4 separate regions of the Homo sapiens genome follow, and all the other regions are linked to region 1. The links come from fine-mapping of genetic effects on gene expression. A gene starts in region 1. Each other region holds a variant in brackets. All regions are shown on one strand. Distances are between the middles of the regions.

Region 1 (5,149 bases):
TGGCCAAAATGCTAGGAAAGCTCAAGGTATGCCAGACAACATTCTGATGGTAGGGAATAAAATAGCACAGAGAAGCAGGTTATCAGAGGGCAGGACACATGGTACCAGCAGGGAGAAGTTACAAGCCTTGAGGGCAGTACACACAGGAAGCATTCACAACCCAGGACTGGTGCTGGTCGCTGGCTTCACTACTTTTAACTGATTCTTCTCCCACACTGCACCAAGTTTCCTAGTATTTTTCAAAAGCCCTCTCTGAATTTGCTTTGATTTTTTTTCACATTTGTACTGCAATGTGTATTTTATATCACCTAAGAGAGACTCAAACTTACCAATCTGTTGCACTGCTACAAGTCGGCTGAATGGCCTGGTCAACATGGTGAAACCCCGTCTCTACCAAAAATACAAAAATTAGCCAGGCATGGTGGCGTGCGCCTGTGATCCCAGCCGCTGGGGAGGCTGAGGCAGGAGAAGCCCTTGAACCCGGTAGATGGAGGTTGCAGTGAGCAGAGATCGCGCCATTGCACTCCAGCCTGGGCAACAAGAGCAAAACTCCGTCTCAAAAAAAAAAAAAAATGTCGGCTGAGTGAGGATAGCAGACCATCTCTTTTTTCTCCTTTCTGAATGAGGGACTTAAGCCTGCTAACAGGTACAAAGTTCTCTCCAGAGTTTAGTCCTTCTCTAAGTCCAAGGCCTGCTACTAGAGGTTACCTTCCCTGCGGTTGTGACCTCTCCATCTCAACTGCTCTGGTTTTGTCTTTTAAAAAATCTTAAGGTTGGCAACTTTGGCTTAATTACCTAAGTCCAGTTCAGTGGTTTTCAAACTGTGTTCCAAGGAGTGGCCTCTAGGATAGAAGTTAAGTGGGGTGGTGGGGCCTGGCCCTTTTAAATTTAGTTCCACCAGAGCATGCTGCTTTATATATTGGGTTCCAGATAAAAATTCATGGGGAGAAATTGTTCCACTCCTTTAAAATGTTTGAAAATCACAAGTCTGGATATTGGTTTGTATGGAGTCAATACTCACTGCAAAGCACATTTCATTCAAACCACTCAGTTTTTTTTTTGTTTTTGTTTTTAAGACTGGGTCTTCAAATGGACAAAGGGTGTATTTTTCATATCTTCTTTCCCCATCCCCATTTTACTGATGCTAAAATTGGAGTTTAGGAGTCATTTGGGGCCAGGCACTGTAGCATAATTCTGGCGCTTTGGGAGGTCTAGGCAGGAGAATCGCTTGAGCCCAGGAATTCGAGGTTACAGTGAGCTATTATCACGCCACTGCATTCCAGCCAGGACGACAGAACAAGACTCTGTCTCTTAAAAAAAAATAAGAAAAGTCACCTCCTTATTTAATTTGGCCTTTGAGAACACTGGGGGATTTACAAAATAATTACATATATCCAGGTACTCATGGTCTATTTTTCATCATTACACGACAATCAAATGACCAAAACTAGGAGTGTGTGGACTGGCACGTGTTAAGGTTTTTAAGAGAGGTAAGATTGACAGGTGGAAGCAAAAGGTGTGCAGACAACAAGGTGACAGCTTTTCTCTTACAGAATCCCAGACTCAACAGCACATTTCCTGACGGGAAGGGCTTCTCTGTCTGGGAGAGGCCTCCACTTCATTCTCATAAGCCAAATCTGATCCTGGCTTTGGGTAAACCTGCTCTCAATTTAAGAGCAGGTTTCCTTTAGACAAGTAGATTAGGGGTCGCCTCTTCCTCGCCTCGGGATAAGGGCAAACAAGACGCCAGGCTTGGGCGTTGGGAGGACGGCGACAGCGACGCTGGGAACAGGGGTAGAATCCACGCCGTCCAGCGGCCCCCAGGCCTGTCAGCTCCTCACCCGCCCACCCACCCGCCCGCCTGCATTCTTCGGTCTAAACTTACCAGGTGGAAGCTACAACTCTAGACAGGAAGTAACTAACTGGGTTGGATCCGGTCGAGTTCCGCTGCGCTTCTTAGAGCCGCTGCTGGGAAGAGGCCGAAACCCAGTGGCCGCAGCAGTAGCCACCGCCTCTGTTACTAGGGGGTCTCGCCTCCATCGCTGGCTGCGAGGAGTCTGAGGGCACGTGACCGGAAGTAGCAAGGCGGGCCCTGGGCACGTGACTCAAGAGCGCGGCCGCCATGACACCTTCCGCTAGTTCCCTCCCTCCCCCACGGGTTCCCGCCTGTTTCGTTTCCTCTCTCCGGTCTCGAGCGGCGAAGGGTCCTGGGATCCTGGCTGGCCCAACCATTTGGCCTAGAGCTCCTCCGGTTCCAGTCGGCGCCGTGTCTCCAGCCCGCAACGGCCCTGCGGTCGCAGGCCGTAGAGAGCGTAATCGCGACCGCGGCCTGAGGGGGAGGGACCACGCGGAAGGAGGGGCGTGACTCGTCACGTGATGAGGAAGTGCCGTTAGTAGCGTTGTTTCCAGTCTGCGGCTCTCCTGGATGACGTCAGCAAGGAAGGGGAGGAACGCGAGGGGAGACTGAAGTTCACGTTCCGCTCTTAGTGCGCGGTGAGTTCCCCGGCGCTAAGCCGGGAGACAAGATCCGATCTACTGAGAGCTGCGAGGTACTGCCCTGGATGTGGTGGAGCTGGGCTGGGACCTCCGGGCTGCTGGTCTGTGAGCCTGGCTTTGAAAATTGGTTACTGGGTCTCCTCTCAAGAAATCTCAAGATATTAAAGTTACTGCTGTTAAAAAGGTAGTAGTTCCACTAGGCAAGGAGCTTTTTGTGGGTAGGGATTGTGTTTTGTTCATCCCTGTGTCTCTAGCGGTGTGTTCAGGTCCTGGAACATAGTAGGCACTCAGAATGTTGAATGAATGAATGTATAAATGAGTCAGTCGCCATTTGTCTGAGGCAGAGAGTTGTTTTCTGATCATTTCTTCTTGGATAGAAAGATCCCATTGTGAAAATGAGGCAGTCTGCAACTTCCCCTTCTCATTTCTTCAATTTTTGCTATCTTTCTTACTTCTTTCTCCTCTTCCTCCACGCACCTACTGGGGCAAAAGAGAAACATGTTTGCATTTGATGTGTGAGCAACAAACACTGAACTATTTTACGATAATGGAAAGATGAGATTTGGATTCAGGAGACGCGTATTCTAATCTCAGCTCTACCATTTATGAACTCTGTGATCCTTGGGCAAGCCAGTCTCCCAAAAGTTGTTTCATTTACTTTGGTTAAGCATTTGTCGCCAACTTCTATGTTCTTAGTTTTTGGTAGAGTGCCTTCACAGAAGTAACATTTAAACTCAGCTTTGCAGAAAGGTAGGGTTTTGGTAAATGGGGGAAGATTCCATAAACATCATATATTAAACCATGGAGGCACAGCAAGTTTATGGAATGAAAAAGAAAAAAAGAGTCGAGTCCAATGTAGTTGGAGAATAGAGAGGTTAAGATGGGAAATAAGGCTGGAAAAAGAAGCAGGGAGGAGATAACAGATTTTCAAGAAATAGAGCTGTTGAAGGCTTGTACAATATTATGTATATATTTTTTAAATTTTATTGTGGAAAATTTCAAACGCAGACAAAAGTAGGATAATAAATTGAACCCTCATGTACACTTAACGCAACTTGAACAATTATCAGCATTCTGCTGTTCCTCTTTATACTGTTTGTACATTTCTAGGTACTTTTTATATCCATTGTTGCATTTGATTAATAGCAGCTTTCAATTTGAGCTCAGTTCTACTGTATGTAGCTACTGGCTAAGAAGATTTTATTTATGTAAACAATTTCTTTGGGTTTTAGTTGACCACTTGCTCTGTTGAATCAATGTGTAACATGGCCACTTAAACACAACTAATACTGTTTTTAGGTTGTAATATAGAAACTTAGTGTCTAGATCCAGGAAGTTAGTGTTTCTACTCTATTCTGGGCTCATCTAACTACTTAAGGAGTATTATGCTCAGTTCTAGGCACCTCATTTTTAGGCAAACTACAGTGCCTCTGTAGAAGGTTGACTGGAACAGAGGGTTGGAAAATGTCATGTCAGGAGTGATGAAGAAACTGGGAATGTTAAATTTTTAGAAGACCTGATAATGCTTTTCAAATACAGAAGGATTGTTTTGGAAAGAGACAGCTTGTTCCCTTCAGCTGTAGAAGCTACATACAATTAGGAATAATGGTAGAGCTCTAAGTGATCAGGCTTCAGCATAGTATTAAAAAGAACCTTATAATAGTGAGCCCTTTGGAGGACTGGAATTGGCAGCTTCATGAGAGTGAGTGCTTTCTTTCCATGGCTGAAAATGTTCAGGGATCTAGGGCAAAACTAATTTCTGAATTAGGTGGACATGTTCACTGAATTACCTATGAATCTTTTTCCATCTTGAGAATTCTAGGAAGTAGGGCTCATGTGCGATCTTGAAAGCTGGGTATGTTTGGATAAGAAAATCTGGAAGGGAAGCAGTCATTTCAGGGAGAGTAAACATAAAGTATAAAGTTGAAGTTGGTTTAACACTGTCATTCAGCAGCTTCTCTGAGAATTGGCATTGCTTATGCTGTTTTTATTTTCCATTCTCATTTCTGTTAAATTCTTTTTTTCTTTTCAGTAGAACTTACTAGGTGTGTCCCCCTGCACACCCCCGCATTATATTATAACTTCCAGGACATTCTCTTTTTACCGAGATTAAGGCAAAATGACCTACTCAGAGTTTCTTTGTTTCAAGATCACAAGTAGAAGAGACACTATGATATTATCATTCCTTTCCATCTCTTGGATCCTGTACCATGGTTTTATCTTTTTCTTGAATCTTCAGTCCCTTTCGTTCTAGACTCTACTTTTAGCTACTACCTACAAATCTGTTGAAGAGTCTCCCCAATAATAACGTCAAGAGAGGTTTTCTCCTTTTCCACCAGACTTCTTGAGTAATTGAAATGTTTTATCCTCATTTTCATATCACCCACCCGTTTTCTCAAGTCTTTGTTTTCTAGCATCTAACCACCCACAGCACTTTACAGAAATTGTGTGACCTCCCAACACACAATTCTTCAATTCCTTTCTGTTGCCTGCCAAGTTAAGTTCAGGTTCTTTGGTTTGAAATTCAAAGTGTTTTGTAACTTGGGCCCAAATTAAGATTCCAGCTTTATCTTTCATTATTCCGTTGCTTGTATCCTGTTTCAACCAAAGACTAAATTTGTATTCTTCTAGTATATTCTGCATTTTTTTCTTC
Region 2 (5,149 bases), 41 kb after region 1:
GTAATTCCAGCACTTTCAGAGGCCGAGGTGGGCAGATCACCTGAGGTCGGGAGTTTGAGACCAGCCTGGCCAACATGGTGAAACCCCATCTCTACTAAAAATACAAAAATTAACTGGGCATGGTGGCTTATGCTTGTAATCCCAGCTACTTGAGAGGCTGAGGCAGGAGAATTGCTTGAACCTGGGAGGTGGAGGTTGCAGTGAGCTGAGATCGCACCACTGCACTCCAGCTTGGGCAACAGAGCAAGACTTGGTCTCAAAACAAAAAGGAAAAGAAAAATTCCTTGAATTCGTCAAGTTCTTTCCTGTGTCACATTGTCTTCCATGTTTCCTTTATCAGAAATGCAGGCCCCTTATTTCTGATGGCTCCTACTCCAAGTTTTCACATTATGTGGGCCCCATGCATATGTCCTCTAAGCTTGTCTCATCTTTTAGCTTTCTGCTTCAATGTCACTTCCTCATAGAGCCCTTCTCAGATCTTCCAGGCAGAATCAGCCATTCTCTCTGATGCTTCCTTGTTCTTTTTTTTCATAGTGCTTAGCATACTTTATAAGTATATACTTACGTGTTTAAGTTTTGTCTCCTATACTAGACTGTAGGCTCCACAAGAGTACAGGGATTGTGTCTCTTCTGTTCATCATTACATATCCAGTGCTTAGCATAGGATATGCCCTGGGTAATTACTGAGTGGTTGAAAGAATTCTGAAGCTGCCCAGGTGTGGTAGCTCATGCCTGTAATCCCAGCACTTTGGGAGGCTGCGGTGGGAGGCTTGCTTGAGCTCAGGAGTTTAAGACCAGCCTGGGCAACATGGTAGTGAGACCCTGTCTCTCTTTAAAAAAAAAAAAGAAAAAAATTAAAGTTAATTTTGTGGCTTCTCTTTCTCATGAACAATTTATACAACAAATTTTCAGAAAACAACTTGTGTTAGGGTGATGAGATTGTGTTCTTGAATATTTTTACGTTTTGGCATTAAACATTTTCACAGTTTTGACCATCTCCTGTATCCAGTCAGTGTGCTAAGAGTGGTCAAACTGACACTTCCCTGTGTGTGTTTAGGTTGGATCCCAGAGACCGTGGAGGAATGGAAGCTTCTCCTTCATCTCATACAGAGCAAGAGCACGAGGCCAGCCCCCCAGGAGTCACTAAATGGGAGCCTCAGTGATGGGCCTTCCCCCATCAATGTGGAGAATGTGGCACTTCTGTTAGCTAAGGCCATGGGCCCAGATCGGGCTTGGTCACTGCTACAGGAATGTGGTCTGGCCCTTGAGTTGTCAGAGAAGTTTACCAGAACCTGCGATATCCTGAGGATTGCTGAGAAAAGGCAGAGGTAATATCAGTTTGTCCTACCCTCTGCATAGTGCTTGGAGAAGGTAGAAGGCCACAGACTTTCAGATGTAGATGTGGAGATCATTTAGTCCCGACCCATCACTAACATGAGGAGACTGAGACTGATGTGGTAATTAAGGGAAGAGGCTAAAGTAATATTTCATTCACAGCCATGACCAAGATGCTGTTCAGATTAACCTGAATAATCTGATGTGTCCTTGATTCTTTAAAAATATTACTGGTACCAGGCTGGTCGTGGTGGTTCACGCCTGTAATCCTTGCACTTTGTGAGGCCGAGGTGGGCGGATCATGAGGTCAAGAGATTGAGACCATCCTGGCAACATGGTGAAACCCCATCTCTACTAAAAAAAAAAAGTACAAAAATTAGCTGGGTGTGGTGGCACGTGCCTGTAGTCCCAGCTACTTGGGAGGCTGAGGCAGGAGAATCGCTTGAACTCGGAAGGTGGAGGTTGCAGTGAGCCAAGAACATGACACTGTACTCTAGCCTGGTGACAGAGCGAGACTCCATCTCAAAAACAAAAAAATTACTGGTACCTGGCTGGGTACGGTGGCTTATGCCTGTAATCCCAGTACTTGGGGAGGCTGAGGCAGGTGGATAACCTGAGGTCAGGAGTTCGAGACCAGCCTAACCAATATGGTGAAACCCTGTCTCTACTAAAAAAAAAAAAAAAAAATGCAAAAAAATTAACTGGACATGGTGGCAGACACTTGTAATTCCCAGCTACTCGGGAAGCTGAGGCAGGAGAATCGCTTGAACTCAGCAGGCAGAGATTGCAGTGAGCCAAGATCACGCCATTGCACTCCACCCTGGGCAACAAGAGCAAAACTCTGAAAAAAAAAAAAAAAATTACTGGTACCAGATACCTAATGTCTCAGTAATTTTTTTTTGTGGTATAATACACATAAAATTTATCATCTTAACAATTTAAAAATATTCAGCTCAGTGGTATTAAGTTATTCATATTGTTTTGCATCCAGTCTCTAGAACTTTTTCATTTTGCAAAACTGAAACTCCACACCCATTAAACAGCAACTTACTTCCTCTACCTAGCCCCTGGCAACCACAGTTCTACTTTCTGTTTTTATTAATTTTACTATTCTACATACCTCATCTCAGTGGAATTAATACATTTGTCGTTTTGTGACCAGCCTGTTTTCACTGAGCATAGCATCCTAAAGGTTTATCCATGTTGTAGCATGTGTCAGGATTTCCTTTCTACTTAAGGCTGAATAATATTCCGTTGTATATATATGCCACCTTTTGTTTATCCATTCATCTGTTGACAGACACTTGAATTGCTTCCACTTTCTGGCTATTGTGAATAACGCTGCTATGAATATGAGTATACAAATATGTCTTCCAGACACTGCTTTCAGTTCTTTCGGGTATATACCTGAAAGTGGAATTCTGGAATCATATGGTAATTCTATTTTTAATTTTTTGAGGAACCACCATACTGTTCTGTAGAGACTGCACCATTTTACTTTCCTGCCAGCAGTGCACAAGAGTTCCAATTTCTCCATGTGCTAGCCCCACACTTGTCATTTTCTGTTGTTGTTT[T/C]TTGTTAAACAGTAGCTATCCCAGTGGGTGTCAGGTACTATATATCTCATTGTGGTTTTGATTTGCATTTTTCTAATGATTAGAGATGTTGAGCATTTTTTCATATGCTTATTGACCATTTATATAATTGTCTTTGGAGAAATAGCTATTCAAGTCCTTTGCCCATGTTGAATCAGGTTGGGTGTTTTCGTTGTTGTTGCTGTAAGAGTTCTCTGATATTCTGGATATTAACCTCTTATCAGATACATGATTTGCAAATATTTTCTTCCATTCTGTAGGTTGCCTTTTCACTCTGTGCATTGTGTCTTTTAATGCACAGAATCAGTCAACTTTTTGAATCCTCTGAAACTCTGTAGTTTTTAAGTTTTCTGTGAAGAATGAACAATGACAACTAAATTTGCTTGTTTCTTTTCTTTGGGATTTCAGGGCCTTGATACAAAGCATGCTTGAAAAATGCGATCGGTTTCTCTGGTCCCAGCAGGCCTAGTGGGAGAAGATTCAGCAGGATGTCATGACATTTTGAGAAAAACTAAATCATGCTCCTGAACCTTCTGAACGCATTTGTTATTGAAGGAAAGACACCACCCCCAAATCCTGCCATCTTATTGGGGCTACTTTTGTCAGTGTCTGTACCCTTGGCATCGGCATCTGTGACTCTTTATCCATGACCTCAGTGTTTCTTAACCAAAGTTGTACTCAGCATTTCTTAACCAAAGTTGAATTTTGAAAAGAGTCAGTCCTTGTTTGCTGGAATTAGAATGTTAATGTCCTAGTATTATTCCGAACTACAGTATTAACTGCTTGTTGCTAGTGGATTAGACAGATTCTTTTCTTACTGTGGCTTCCATGTTGGGAGCAGAAGCTTTTCATCCTGGTCACATGAAGACAGATGGTATTATTGACTGGAGTTGAATTATTTTTATATCTTGTCTGGCACAATATGGAAATTACTGAAATAAGACGGTGTATAATGGAATTAACACCCAAAATAAGTAGAACACTGAAGATTTGAATTTGATATTTAAGTAAAATGGGACTGGGTGCAGTGGCTCAGGCCTGTAATCCCAACCCTTTGGAAGGTAAAGACGGGAGGATCACTTGAGGCCAGGAGTTCAAGACCAGCCTGGGCAACATAGTGAGAATGCATCTCTACAAAAAATAAAAAAAATTAGCTAGGCATAGTACCTGAGGCCAGGAGGTCCAGGCCGCAATGAGATGTGTTTGTGCCATTGCACACCAGTCTGGGTGACAGAGAAAGACCCTGTCTCAAAAACAAATTAAATAAAATATCTTCATATATAAATTAAGCTAATTAAAAATATTTTTCCCTGTATTTATTTAATATTTTCTAATCTGAACCCATATACAGCTGACTAATTCATTCTTAGAAATGTGTTATCTGTAATCTTTCCTAAACAGAGTAGCCCACAAGAATCATGCACTTTTTAAAATTATTTCTAAGAAGCCATAACAAAGCTGTGTACTAATAAAGACTGCAGCAAGCACTTGTGTTATTTAAATTATGTAAGTAGATTGTCATTTGTCAGGCTCCTGTACATTTACATAGCATGTTATATTAATAATAAATGTAAAATATGACTAAAGTTTTCATTGGAACACAATGTAGACAGGAGGTTTATTATGAGCATTTTGCAGAAAGGTGTGGAGTAAGTAAAGTGTTGGATGCACTGAACAATTCAACTCTTTTTTGCATTTATAACATAACCAGAGAATATGGACACAAATCACTGTTAAACTTACACATTACTCCTAGATATGATGCAACCATATGGGTTAAAGAGATTGTCGGCTGGGCGCGGTGGCTCACGCTTGTAATCTCAGCACTTTGGGAGGCCAAGGCGGGTGGATCACGAGGTCAGGAGATCGAGACCATCCTGGCTAACACGGTGAAACCCCGTCTCTACTAAAAATACAAAAAAATTAGCCTGGCATGATGGCTGGCGCCTGTAGTCCCAGCTACTCGGGAGGCTGAGGCAGGAGAATGGCGTGAACCCGGGAGCCGGAGCTTGCAGTGAGCCAAGATCGTGCCACTGCACTCCAGGTTGGGCGACAGAGTGAGACTCCGTCCCAAAAAAAAAGAGAGATTGTCAGGGAAAGGAGAATTCTTAGAATTCCGGGAAGTATGGAAAACCTTCCCACTAGCATAATTTGCCTTTTGGCCATATTGGATTGTGTTGAAATGTGCATCTATACTGAGATAAGGGTGAGAGCCCCTGTCC
Region 3 (5,149 bases), 59 kb after region 1:
AGCTTCAAAGCTGACAGACTAGGTCCAGCACAGTGGCTCACTCCTATAATCCCAATGCTTTTGGAGGCCAAGGCAGGAGGATCACTTGGGGTCAAGAGTTTAAGATCACTCTGTGCAAAACTGTAAGATCTTGTCTCTACGAAATATAAAAATAAATGGACCGGGTGTGGTAGTGTGCACCTGCAGTCCCAGCTACTCAAGAGGCTGAAGCGGAAGGATTGTGGGAGACCCAGGAGGTCAAGGCTGCAGTGAGCTATAATCACGCCACTGCACTCCAGCCTGGTTAACAGAGCAAGACCCTGTGTCTAAAAGAAAACAAAATAAAACTAGCAGCCTACCCCTGCCATGTCTCATGTGTGCCCTGGAAGGCTCCTTCCACCCCTCAGTCTAGATATCCAGAGATTTACCTCCTCAGCACAGAAAAGCCCTGCTCAGCTGGCCTAGTCAATTAGGAAATTAGGAAGGAAGGAAGTGGTCAGTACCAGAGCCCAGCAGGGCTGAGGCCAGGACATGCAGAGAGGCTGGTGGATATAGCAGCAACTGTGGTTTCTTCTTCTCCAGTCCGTTTTCACTCTTTTATTTTTTCTTTCTTTCCTTCCTTCCTTCATTTCTTCCTTCCTCTCTCTTTCTCCTTCCTTCCTTCCTTACTCCCTCTCTGTCTTCCTCCTTCCTTCTTCTCTCTTCCTCCTTCCTTCCTCTCTCTCTTCCTTCCTTCTTTCCCTCCTTTCTTCCTCTTTCCCTCCCTCCCTTCCCTCCCTCCCTCCTTCCTTCCTTCTTTTCTTCCTCCCTTCTTCTCTTCCTCCCTTCCTTCCTCTCTCTTTCTCCTTCCTTCCTCTCTCTTTCTCCTTCCTTCCTTCCTCTCTCTTTCTTTCCTCTTTTCTTTTCTTTCTTTCAGAATGCTATGAATATAGGCCTCAGGATAACTACTTTTTAAAGGAAATGACAATCTTGTTGGGAAAGAGAAAACAGTAAGTCTTAAAAACACTCCTTGGCATACTCCTCACCTGATCCTCCTCTCCTCCCCTCCCCTCCCCTCCCCTCCCCTCCCCTCTCTCCTCCCCTCTCCCCTCCCCTCTCCCTTCCCCTCCCCTCCCCTCCCCTGCCCTCCCCTCCCCTCCTCTCTTCTCCTCTCCTCTCAAGACAGGGTCTTGCTCTGTTGCCTGAGCTGGAGTGCAGTGGTGCAATCATGGCTCACTGCAGCCTCAGCCTCCCAGGTTTAAGTGATCCTTGCATCTCAACCTCCCAAGTAGCTGGGACTGCAGTTGTTTGCCAATATGTTTGAGTAATTTTTAAAATTTTTAGTACAGTGGGAGTTTCACCATGTTGCCCAGGCTGGTCTCAAATTCCTAACCTGCAGTCCTCCTGCCTTGGCCTCCCAAAGTGCTGAGATTATAGGCATGAGCTACCATGCCCAGCCAGAAGTTCATATCTGATTGCTTCTATTTTTCAGTGAAATAGGAAGCAAAGTTGTCAACTGAGAAGAGAATGAACGAGGAGTTGTGGGAAGTTTCAGAAGAGAAGAGAAGTAGAAAGCAGACATCTAGGAAAGGAAGAATGTGACTGAACTTGAGAAAGGTAGTGGATTGTATGGTAGCTCTTGGTCAACGACCATGAATTTAAAGTGAGACTAGTCATAGCAGTCGTGCTTTTTTTCTGATCACATTCAGCTGCCAAGGTTCAGACTTTTAGCAAGTGGCAAATTGAATATCACTGTGCAATAAATGCTTGTTGAGTTGCATGACTGAATACATGCGAAGGTCAAAGGAGGAGGATTTATTTAAAGATGAGGGAGGGTTACAGGGCACAGGGAGAATGTTAACAGAGAGAGTGACTGAGGGTAAAAGATAGGGCATAACATAGACTTCAACAACCAAGGGGCCACAGGGCCACGGGGACAAGGTTGCCCAGAGTGTAGCAGGAGCAGGTCTTCCTCTGAGACAGGAAGGAGAGGAACGATAACAAGGAAGATGCATTTTGAGATGAAGGACAGAGATCCTGAGGGAAACCAGCAGGCCCTTTTCTTTACCAGTCATAGAACTCATCGCTCTCCACCTGTTTGCATTTCTGAGTTTGACCCAGAGTGCACAAAACACAGGGATAGGAACCTTGTCAGGCTTATTGACAGATAACTGTTGTCACTTTAACACCAAACACAGCACCTCACCTGTAGCAGGTTCTTAGTCACTTTTATTGATTGAAGGAGTCAATGCATGAGTGAAGTAGGAGAAGTCATCTCCTATAGATTGACAGGTGGAAGGTTAAGAAGAATGGAAAAGCTTTGGAACAATGATGTCATTTAGAGATGAACATGGACTTTTTTTTTTTATGTTTGCCTCGCACTAATAACTTTTATTTCACTCAAATTAGAGCAGTAATCTTCCATAAATAAGTATATTCCCTGCCCAATAATTTAAGGAAAAATCCACAATGATTAGTAAAGAAAAATATAAGAATTAACAGACCCTTTAAATTTGTTTTAAATATTTGAAGATTTAAAAAGTGTTTAAAGTTTGTAATTCCTAGTAGGAAAACATTATCTGAATGAATACCCTAATGGCAAACCACTGTAAAATGCTTCAGCTGCATTTGGGGGAGAGGGGTAGGGATTATCTTCAAAGCACCCCAGCTCTCTTGATGAGAAGGTCAGAGGTACGTTGGTTTGTATTATTGCGACATCCATAAGGTGATCTAGGTTGCTTTTCCTTCAGCAGGGCTTTATTTATCAGAAGGGCATTATGCTTGACCTCCAAATTTGGCTGACAATTTACTGATGAGATTCATAACCTTTGGGTTGCTCTGGTATTTTGACATATTTGCTGGGTTCTGAGCCACATCCTGGAAGGCCACCATAACTTCTGGATCCTGCATGGCTGCAAGAGCCTCTGGATCACTAAGAATTTCATTGAGTCCAGGCATTCCGGCCATTCCAGGCATGTCCCCTCCCATTCCAGGCATTCCTCCGGGAAAATTACCAGGCATTCC[A/C]CCAGGAAAGCCACCTGGAAAAGGGCCATAGTGAGCTCCTGACTGTCGTCTGGCTTCTTCCTCCCTCTGGGCTCTCTCCTGCTCTTCTTGAGCCTTCTTAACTCGTTCTATTCTTTCTTTGATCTCTCGCTCTTCATGTTTTCGCTCATACTTTCTCCAATGTTCTGCAATTTTCTGTGCCCTAGGTTGAACTTCTTTCAGCATTGCACTAGCATCTTCATCATAATCCAATTTACAGGCAAAGGCAAGATCATGGGCTGCTTCTTCCCAGTGGCCTAGAAGTCTGTGTGCTTTCCCCCGCCACTTGTAAGGCTGAGCTGAATCAGGATTTATTTCAATGGCTCTGTCACAGTCTTGGATGGCAGCATTTGGCTTCTGTAATTTGACGAAGACACTGGCCCTCTTTGCATACAAAATGGCCAAGCGAGGATTCAGCTTGATGGCATCTGTGAATAAGTCAATGGCTTTCTGGAGTTCACCATCATTTAGGACTTCAATAGCAGCCACTTTTTTATCATTTGCCTGATCCATCATCTCCTCCGTTATCTCCACATTTTCATCTCCCATTTCTTGAGGAGCATCAGTGTCTGGTTCAATCACACCTTCTTTATCAATTTCTAGATCACTTTCCTCAGTTGATGGTTCGTCTGCCTTTAAGTCTTCCTCCACCTTCTTACTATCAGGTTTTTCTTCCTTGGTATTTTCTTCTGATTTAGCCTTCTGAGTAGCAGGTGGTACTTTACCTCCCATGCTCTCCACCCACTCTCTCAGGAAGCGCATTTCCTCGGTGTGCAGAACGCTCGGATCCTGCTTACACATTTTCACAAAGGCCCGAAGCTCGTTCACTTTGCAGGGGTCCATGGTAGGGAGGTGGTGGGTGAAGCTGGGGGCTGCGGCCCAGTTCCAGGCCCAGGTGCTGGCTCGGCATGACCGCGCAGAAGGGGGCGGCTGCCGCGAGTGAACATGGACATTGTTAATATGCAATAAAATCTCAGCCTACTTGAAATGTTTACATTAATTGTCAAAAAACATATTCAGAAGGCAAACCCTTATCATCTCTCCGCTGCTCCCAGAGAGATGTTATTAGGCATCACCTTCTGGGTTATGATGGCTTCTTAACTGGCTTCCACATTTCCCCCTTTGCCGCCAACTAGTCTCTTTTCAGTATAGCAGCCAGACTGTTACAACACAAGACAACTTCTATCACTCTCCATTCAAAACTCTCCGGAGGATTCCACTTCCACTCATAGTTGAAGTCAAAGCCCTTATAATGGTTTTCAAACTTTACTCAAACTGTCCTAACTCCTTCCTCTCGTACCTCATCATCCAATTCTCTCCTCCTGCTCATTTTGCTCTGGCCACACTGGTCTCCAAACCCCCAGGCACATCTTACCCTAGGGGCCTCGGATTAGCTGTTCCTTTCCTCTGGAACATTCTTTTCCCAGATATTTGCATATCAGGGCTTTGAGGGGGCCTTGATCCGGGAATGCAGGATACTGGAAGGTTCAACAATACAGTTATTGTCAATAAGAGTATTGGCAGTGAATGTGTTGGAAAGAGGGCCGTAAATGAACTGTGAAAATTTTCCATGAAGATGGGAGAGGACTGGAGAGTTTTGTCAATGAATACAATAAAGAGGTACTTTGTCTCCAAACATCACTAAGCAGATTGTCTACACAGAAGCTTCTAGTGGGTATTTCTAGGCTGGGCACGGTGGCTCACACCTGTAATCCCAACACTTTTGGGGGCGGAGGCGGAGGATGGGTTAAGGTCAGGAGTTTGAGACCAGCCCGAGCAACATAGTGAGACTCCATTTCTACAAAAAATTAACAATTAGCTGGGCATGGTGGCACACTCCTGTTGTCCTCACTACTTGGGAGGCTGAGGCAGGAAGATCACTTGAGCCCAGGAGTTTGAGGTTACAATGAGCTATGATTCCACCATTGCACTCTAGCCTGGCAACAGAGCGAGACTCTTGTCTCAAAAAAAAAAAAAAAATGCAGATTCCTAAGCCATAATCTTGGAGGTCTTGGTCTCAGTTCAGCGAGTTGGGGGTGATCTTCAGGAATCAGTGTTTGAAAATCTTCCTGTTTGGAAATCACTTGTGCAGATAACATTAGTAAGACTGGAGAGAAGGTGGTAATGAATTTATCAGGGACTTCAAAGA
Region 4 (5,149 bases), 43 kb before region 1:
AAGGATAACCAGTTTGTAACATGGCCTAAAATAAAATGAACAGTTCTCAGGCAGCCCACCCAAGGAAATTCACACATAATGAGAAACCAGAGATGTGTTAGAGTTAAAAGGGTAAGTATAAAAAGTTTTACTTTTTTTGTGTAATTTTTAATACAAGACATCTAAAGTCTTAAACATTAAGTTGATCCCATCAGGAACAAAATATGGCACGAAGTTCAGAAACAAGAACATCTTTTTTTTTTTTTTTTGCACTTAGGCTTTTCAGTCACTATGCAATGATTATCGATTCGCCAAGGACAGTAACAGTCAAATACTAGAGAAAAGGAGATAGGAGAAACATCTTTTATTTCTTCTAAAGAGGTGAAAATAAGATTTTTTTAATATTTCTCACTCATAAGATTTTTAAACTCTTAAAAATGCAATATCTTCTTTTCAAAGCACATGCCATCTTAAAAAAATCTTAGCAATGTACATTTGCACTCAAAGAAAAACATGCAGCGCCATTGTCTTCTGACAAAATTCTGCATTAAAAAACCCTATGCGACTTTCTGCAAATATATTCCCTCTTTATTATTCAGGGACTCCAAACCACAAACATTCAGTGCAATATTTATCGTTTCTTATTTCCGTAGGAAACACAGAACCAATGATGTCTTCTGACAACTGTTTCCTGATGGTTGAGCAACAGTCTCCCTTTGCTTTATTTTAAAGTACTTTTTTTAACTTGCTGATGTAAGGTATAATTGGAATTCATTAAAACTTGAGGATCCAATGGAGGGTGAAGAATGAAGGATGGAGGAGGAATACTTAAGGTCTACCCTGTGCCATAAACTTAGGAAAAAAATGTACACAGAAAAAAACGACAACCAAAAAACCTCAGATTTTATCAATGCACCCTTTAAAAAGTGTTTTTTTAATTTCTGAAAGCAGCTTAATGTGAATCAAAAGCAGTTCCTGAGCAACTGCAGTAAACAGTCTTTTAAAATATATATGTACATACACATGTACATATATGTGTGTGTGTGTATATATATATATTTGCAACTTAGCTCATTTGGTTCTGTCTTAATTTACCTCCCCAGCATTTAGTCCCTTCTTTCCTTTCAGTCTCCAATGTGCAAGTACAATAGCATCAGCTCTGGGAGTTGGCGTGGAGCAGATGTTTCTTATCACTCCTGTGAGGTCATCTGCTTGTCTGTCAGGCCAGGTTTCCAGAGTTGCTGCAGGTCATAGTTCTCTCAATCTCACAAAACCTGTAAGCATCATGGCCACCTCACGTTTTCTTCATCAGACGCCGTGACTGCCATGTGTGGAGCTTGTTGTAGGCTGTCTGGAGCATCTCTTCTATGTGACTTACCAACTGAAAAACACAGCAAGACACTTAACAACTGGGCAAAAGCAGGGGAAGTTAATCCTTCCAACCCAAATCTGGCACACACTTCAGAGTGTAGTTTCGGAGCTCCTCTGTATTTCCCCAGTCAATGAGGTAATGTGCAAGCCCTCTGAGAAGGTGCTGTCAGACACATTTTGTGTGGAAAGGAAAGACAGAAAGTAGGGGGCAGTGAAAAGGCTGCGGTTGTAATGGCTGTCCTGTCATTAACCAATAATAGGACAATATGAAAGTCACAATTGTGCTCCAGGCCTCAATTCCTTCTGTCAAACGAGGGGTCTGAACTATATCTGTGATTTTCTAGATTTGAATACTGGTCAGCCAACTAAGGCCAGGATGGTAGTATAAACTTTATTTTATTTTATTTTATTTTTTGAGACAGAGTCTTGCTCTGTCACCCAGGCTGGAGTGCTATGGTGTGATTTTGGCTCACTGCAGCCTCCACCTCACAGGTCCAAGCAGTTCTCATGTCTCAGACTCCCGAGTAGCTAGGATTACAACCATGAGCCACCACACCTGGCTAATTTTTGTATTTTTAGTAGAGATGGGATTTCACCATGTTGGCCAGGCTGGTCTTGAACTCCTGGCCTCAAGTGATTCACCCACCTCAGCCTCCCAAAGTGCTGGGATTACAGGCCTGAGCCACCATGCCCGGCCAGGTTTTTTTTTTTTTTCTTTTTTA[A/TA]ATAGTGGAGATGGACTCTTGCTATGCTGCCCAGGCTGGTCTCGAACTCCTGGGCTCAAGCAATCTTCCTGCCTCAGCCTCTCAAAGTGCTGGGATTACAGGCGTGAGCTGCTGTGCCCAGCCCCGTATATACATCTTGGCAGAACACTGGAAAAATGCCTTATTCTCCTGAAGATTCTGATTCAACAGGCCTGGGATGAGACCCAAGAATCTTTGATTTTCAAAAGCTCCTGCAGTTAATTCTGCATAATTTTGTGAAACAGTTTGCTATTTTTAGGGTTTTTCCAACTCCAGCATTTCAGGAGTTCAATACAACTCAGCAGATTACAGAAAACCTAAATGGTTTCAATGCTTCACACAATGTGCTATGTCATGTCTTGGGTCAGGACTATAGATCTTTGAGTAGATTAAGAATTTTGCCCTCATCATGGACATAGCTAGAAGTCAACAGGATCATATGGAATCTTTTTTATTTTTTTGAGACATGGTCTCACTACGTTGCCCAGGCTGGAGTGCAGTGGCTATTCACAGGTGCAATTTTAGTTTACTATAGTCTCAAACTCCTGATTTCAAGTGATCCTCCTGCCTCAGTCTCTTGAGTAGCTGGGACTACATGTGCATACCACCGCATCTGGCTTATACTGACTTTTGAGGTAGAAGTCTCTGGAATATGTTTCCTTGGAGGTGGACAGTGTTTATGTGTTTAGAAGTAAAGTTTTGCCAAGTCTGGGAGGATGGAGATGGAGATCAGGAAGTCCTAAATTCCTTTGGCATGTCAATGTTTAGGTCTGAGGGGTACAGAGTTAAAAAAATTACCCTTACTGCCATACCTGTTTATCATTATGGGGGATAGTAATATTTAGCTCTGTCTGGAAACTATAAAAATTACTTATTCTGTTTGATGGGCAGCAGTATCTATATTATCAATTGGAAGACATGAACACCATATCCTTCTGCAAGGCTATGCATGGCCTCAGCATCCTTTTCTTTTTTTTTTGAGATGGAGTTTCACTCTTGTTGCCTAGGCTAGATGCAATGGCACGATCTCAGCTCACTGCAATCTCCGCCTCCCAGGTTCAAGCAATTCTCCTGTCTCAACTTCCCGAGTAGCTGGGATTAGGGGCACTTGCCACAACGCCCGGCTAATTTTTTGTATTTTTAGTAGAGATGGGGTTTCACTGTGTTGGCCAGGCTGGTCTCGAACTCTTGACCTCAGGTGATCCACCCGCCTCAGCCTCCCAAAGTACTGGGATTACAGGTGTAAGCCACCGCGCCTGGCCCTCAGCATCCTTTCCAACACAGCACTCCAAGCAGTTATAATCAATTGAGAAGGCACATGACCTGAAACCTATCTGCCATCCTTGCCCTGCTGTGAGAAGACACTCCAAGCTTCTATCTGATTATAAGTAATGCTGTTTTGTATTTTAAGAAAACCCACTTAGAATATTTAGGAAATAAATATGAAAAATCTTGCTGATGATTTTTCAGCTTTCAATTGTAAAACTCCCCTTTTATTTATCCTACTTATTGAATACTGAATCTTAAATTTGTAACTAGAGTCATGTGCCACATAATGTGCATATATGATGGCGGTCCCATCAGATTATAATAGAGCTGAGAAATTCCCATCATCTAGTGATGTCGTAACATCATACAGCAGCACATTATTCACTCGTTTGTAGGGATGCTGGTGTAAACGAACCTATTAAGTAGCCAGCTGTATAAAAGTATAGCATGTACAATTATGTATAGGACCTAATACTTGATAATGATAATGAATATGTTACTGGTTTATCTATTTACTGTATTTTAAAATCATTATTTACGGTGTACTCCTACTTATATATATAAAAAAGTTAACTGTAAAATAGCCGTACGCAGGTCCTTCAGGAGGTATTCCAGAAGAAGGTATTGTTTCACAGGAGATGACAGCTCCATGTGCATTACTGCCCCTGAAGACTTTTCAGTGGGACAAGATGTGGAGGTGGAAGACAGTGATAGTGATGATCCTGACTCTGTGTAGGCCTAGGCTAATGTGTGTTTGTGTCTTAGTTTTTAACAAAAGTTTAAAAAGAAAAAAAAAATTAAAAATAGAAAAAAGGCACCAGGCGTGGTGGCTCACGCCTGTAATCCCAGCACTTTGTGAGGCCGAGGTGGGTGGATCACGAGGTCAGGAGTTCGAGACCAACCTGGCCGACACAGTGAAACCCGGTCTCTACTAAAAATACAAAAATTAGCTGGGCGTGGTGGTGGGTGCCTGTAATCCCAGCTACTCGGGAGGCTGAGGCGGGAGAATCGCTTGAACCCAGGAGGCAGAGGTTGCAATGAGCTGTGATCATGCCATTGCACTCCAGCCTGGGCGACAGAACTAGACTCCATCTCAAAAAAAAAAAAAAAAAAAAGAAAAAGAAAAAATATATATATCTATACGGAGAGAGGGAGAGAGAGAGAGAAAGAGAGAGAGAAAGGCTTATAGAATAAGAATACAAAGAAAATACTTTTGTACAGCTATACAATGGGTGTTTTAGGTTAAGTGTTATTCCAAAGAATGAAAAACTTTAAAAATATTTAAAAGTTTATAAGGTAAAAATGTTATAGTAAGCTAAGGCTAATTTATTATTGAAGAAAAAAAGCTATATTGTAAATTTAATGTAGTCTAAGTGTACAGTGTTAGTAAACTCTGCAGTAGTGTACAGTAATGTCCTAGGCCTTCACATTCACTCACTGAGTCACCCAGAGCAACTTCTAGTCCTGCAGTCCTGCAGGCTCTATTTATGGTAAATGCCCTTTACAGGTGGACCACTTTTTATCTTTTATACTGAATTTTTACTGCAACTTTTCTATGTTTAGATACACACATACCATTGTGTTAAAACTGTTTACAGTATTTAGTACAGTACTATGCTGTACAGGTTTGTAGCCTAGGAGCAACAGGCTACACCATATAGCCTAGAAGTATAGTAGGCTATATAGCTAGGTTTTAAGTACACTCTGTGAGGTTCATACAACAAAACTGTCTGTCAATGAATTGTTTAGAACACATCCCTGTGGTTAAGCAACACGTGACTGTACTATTC

Direction of the effects. Positions count from the first base shown, and alleles are read on the strand shown. Sizes are in standard deviations (SD) of each study's normalised expression. Not every link is listed here.
With allele TA in place of A in region 4, the expression in CD4 T cells of the gene that starts at base 2,486 in region 1 is lower (moderate effect, 0.75 SD a copy in BLUEPRINT).

What was found. PIP is the estimated chance that this variant, and not a neighbour inherited with it, causes the effect.
Region 2: its variant is the best candidate, but not a certain one, in a credible set for the expression of HPS5 in whole blood (GTEx, PIP 0.64).
Region 3: its variant is the best candidate, but not a certain one, in a credible set for the expression of HPS5 in whole blood (GTEx, PIP 0.80).
Region 4: its variant is the best candidate, but not a certain one, in a credible set for the expression of HPS5 in CD4 T cells (BLUEPRINT, PIP 0.87).

What each region holds. Positions count from the first base shown.
Region 1 is chr11:18,319,477-18,324,625 of GRCh38, reverse strand. It overlaps HPS5 (HPS5 biogenesis of lysosomal organelles complex 2 subunit 2), which reads left to right and starts at 2,486. Exons shown (of 23, transcript NM_181507.2): 1 at 2,486-2,680. GTF2H1 (general transcription factor IIH subunit 1) reads right to left here and starts at 2,059. Exons shown (of 15, transcript NM_005316.4): 1 at 1,886-2,059. RefSeq lists enhancers at 2,082-2,501, 2,512-2,811, 1,702-2,901, 2,039-2,988.
Region 2 is chr11:18,278,129-18,283,277 of GRCh38, reverse strand. It overlaps HPS5 (HPS5 biogenesis of lysosomal organelles complex 2 subunit 2), which reads left to right. Exons shown (of 23, transcript NM_181507.2): 22 at 1,058-1,328; 23 at 3,336-4,602. The coding sequence ends at 3,396. Among named protein-coding and RNA genes, the nearest start is that of SAA1, 14 kb to the right of the region's middle. RefSeq lists enhancers at 526-585, 626-685. The variant T/C (reference allele first, on the strand shown) is at 2,910.
Region 3 is chr11:18,260,676-18,265,824 of GRCh38, reverse strand. It overlaps the pseudogene ST13P5. Among named protein-coding and RNA genes, the nearest start is that of SAA1, 3.0 kb to the left of the region's middle. The variant A/C (reference allele first, on the strand shown) is at 2,983.
Region 4 is chr11:18,361,994-18,367,142 of GRCh38, reverse strand. It overlaps GTF2H1 (general transcription factor IIH subunit 1), which reads right to left. Exons shown (of 15, transcript NM_005316.4): 15 at 98-1,360. The coding sequence ends at 1,274. Among named protein-coding and RNA genes, the nearest start is that of MIR3159, 23 kb to the left of the region's middle. The variant A/TA (reference allele first, on the strand shown) is at 2,073.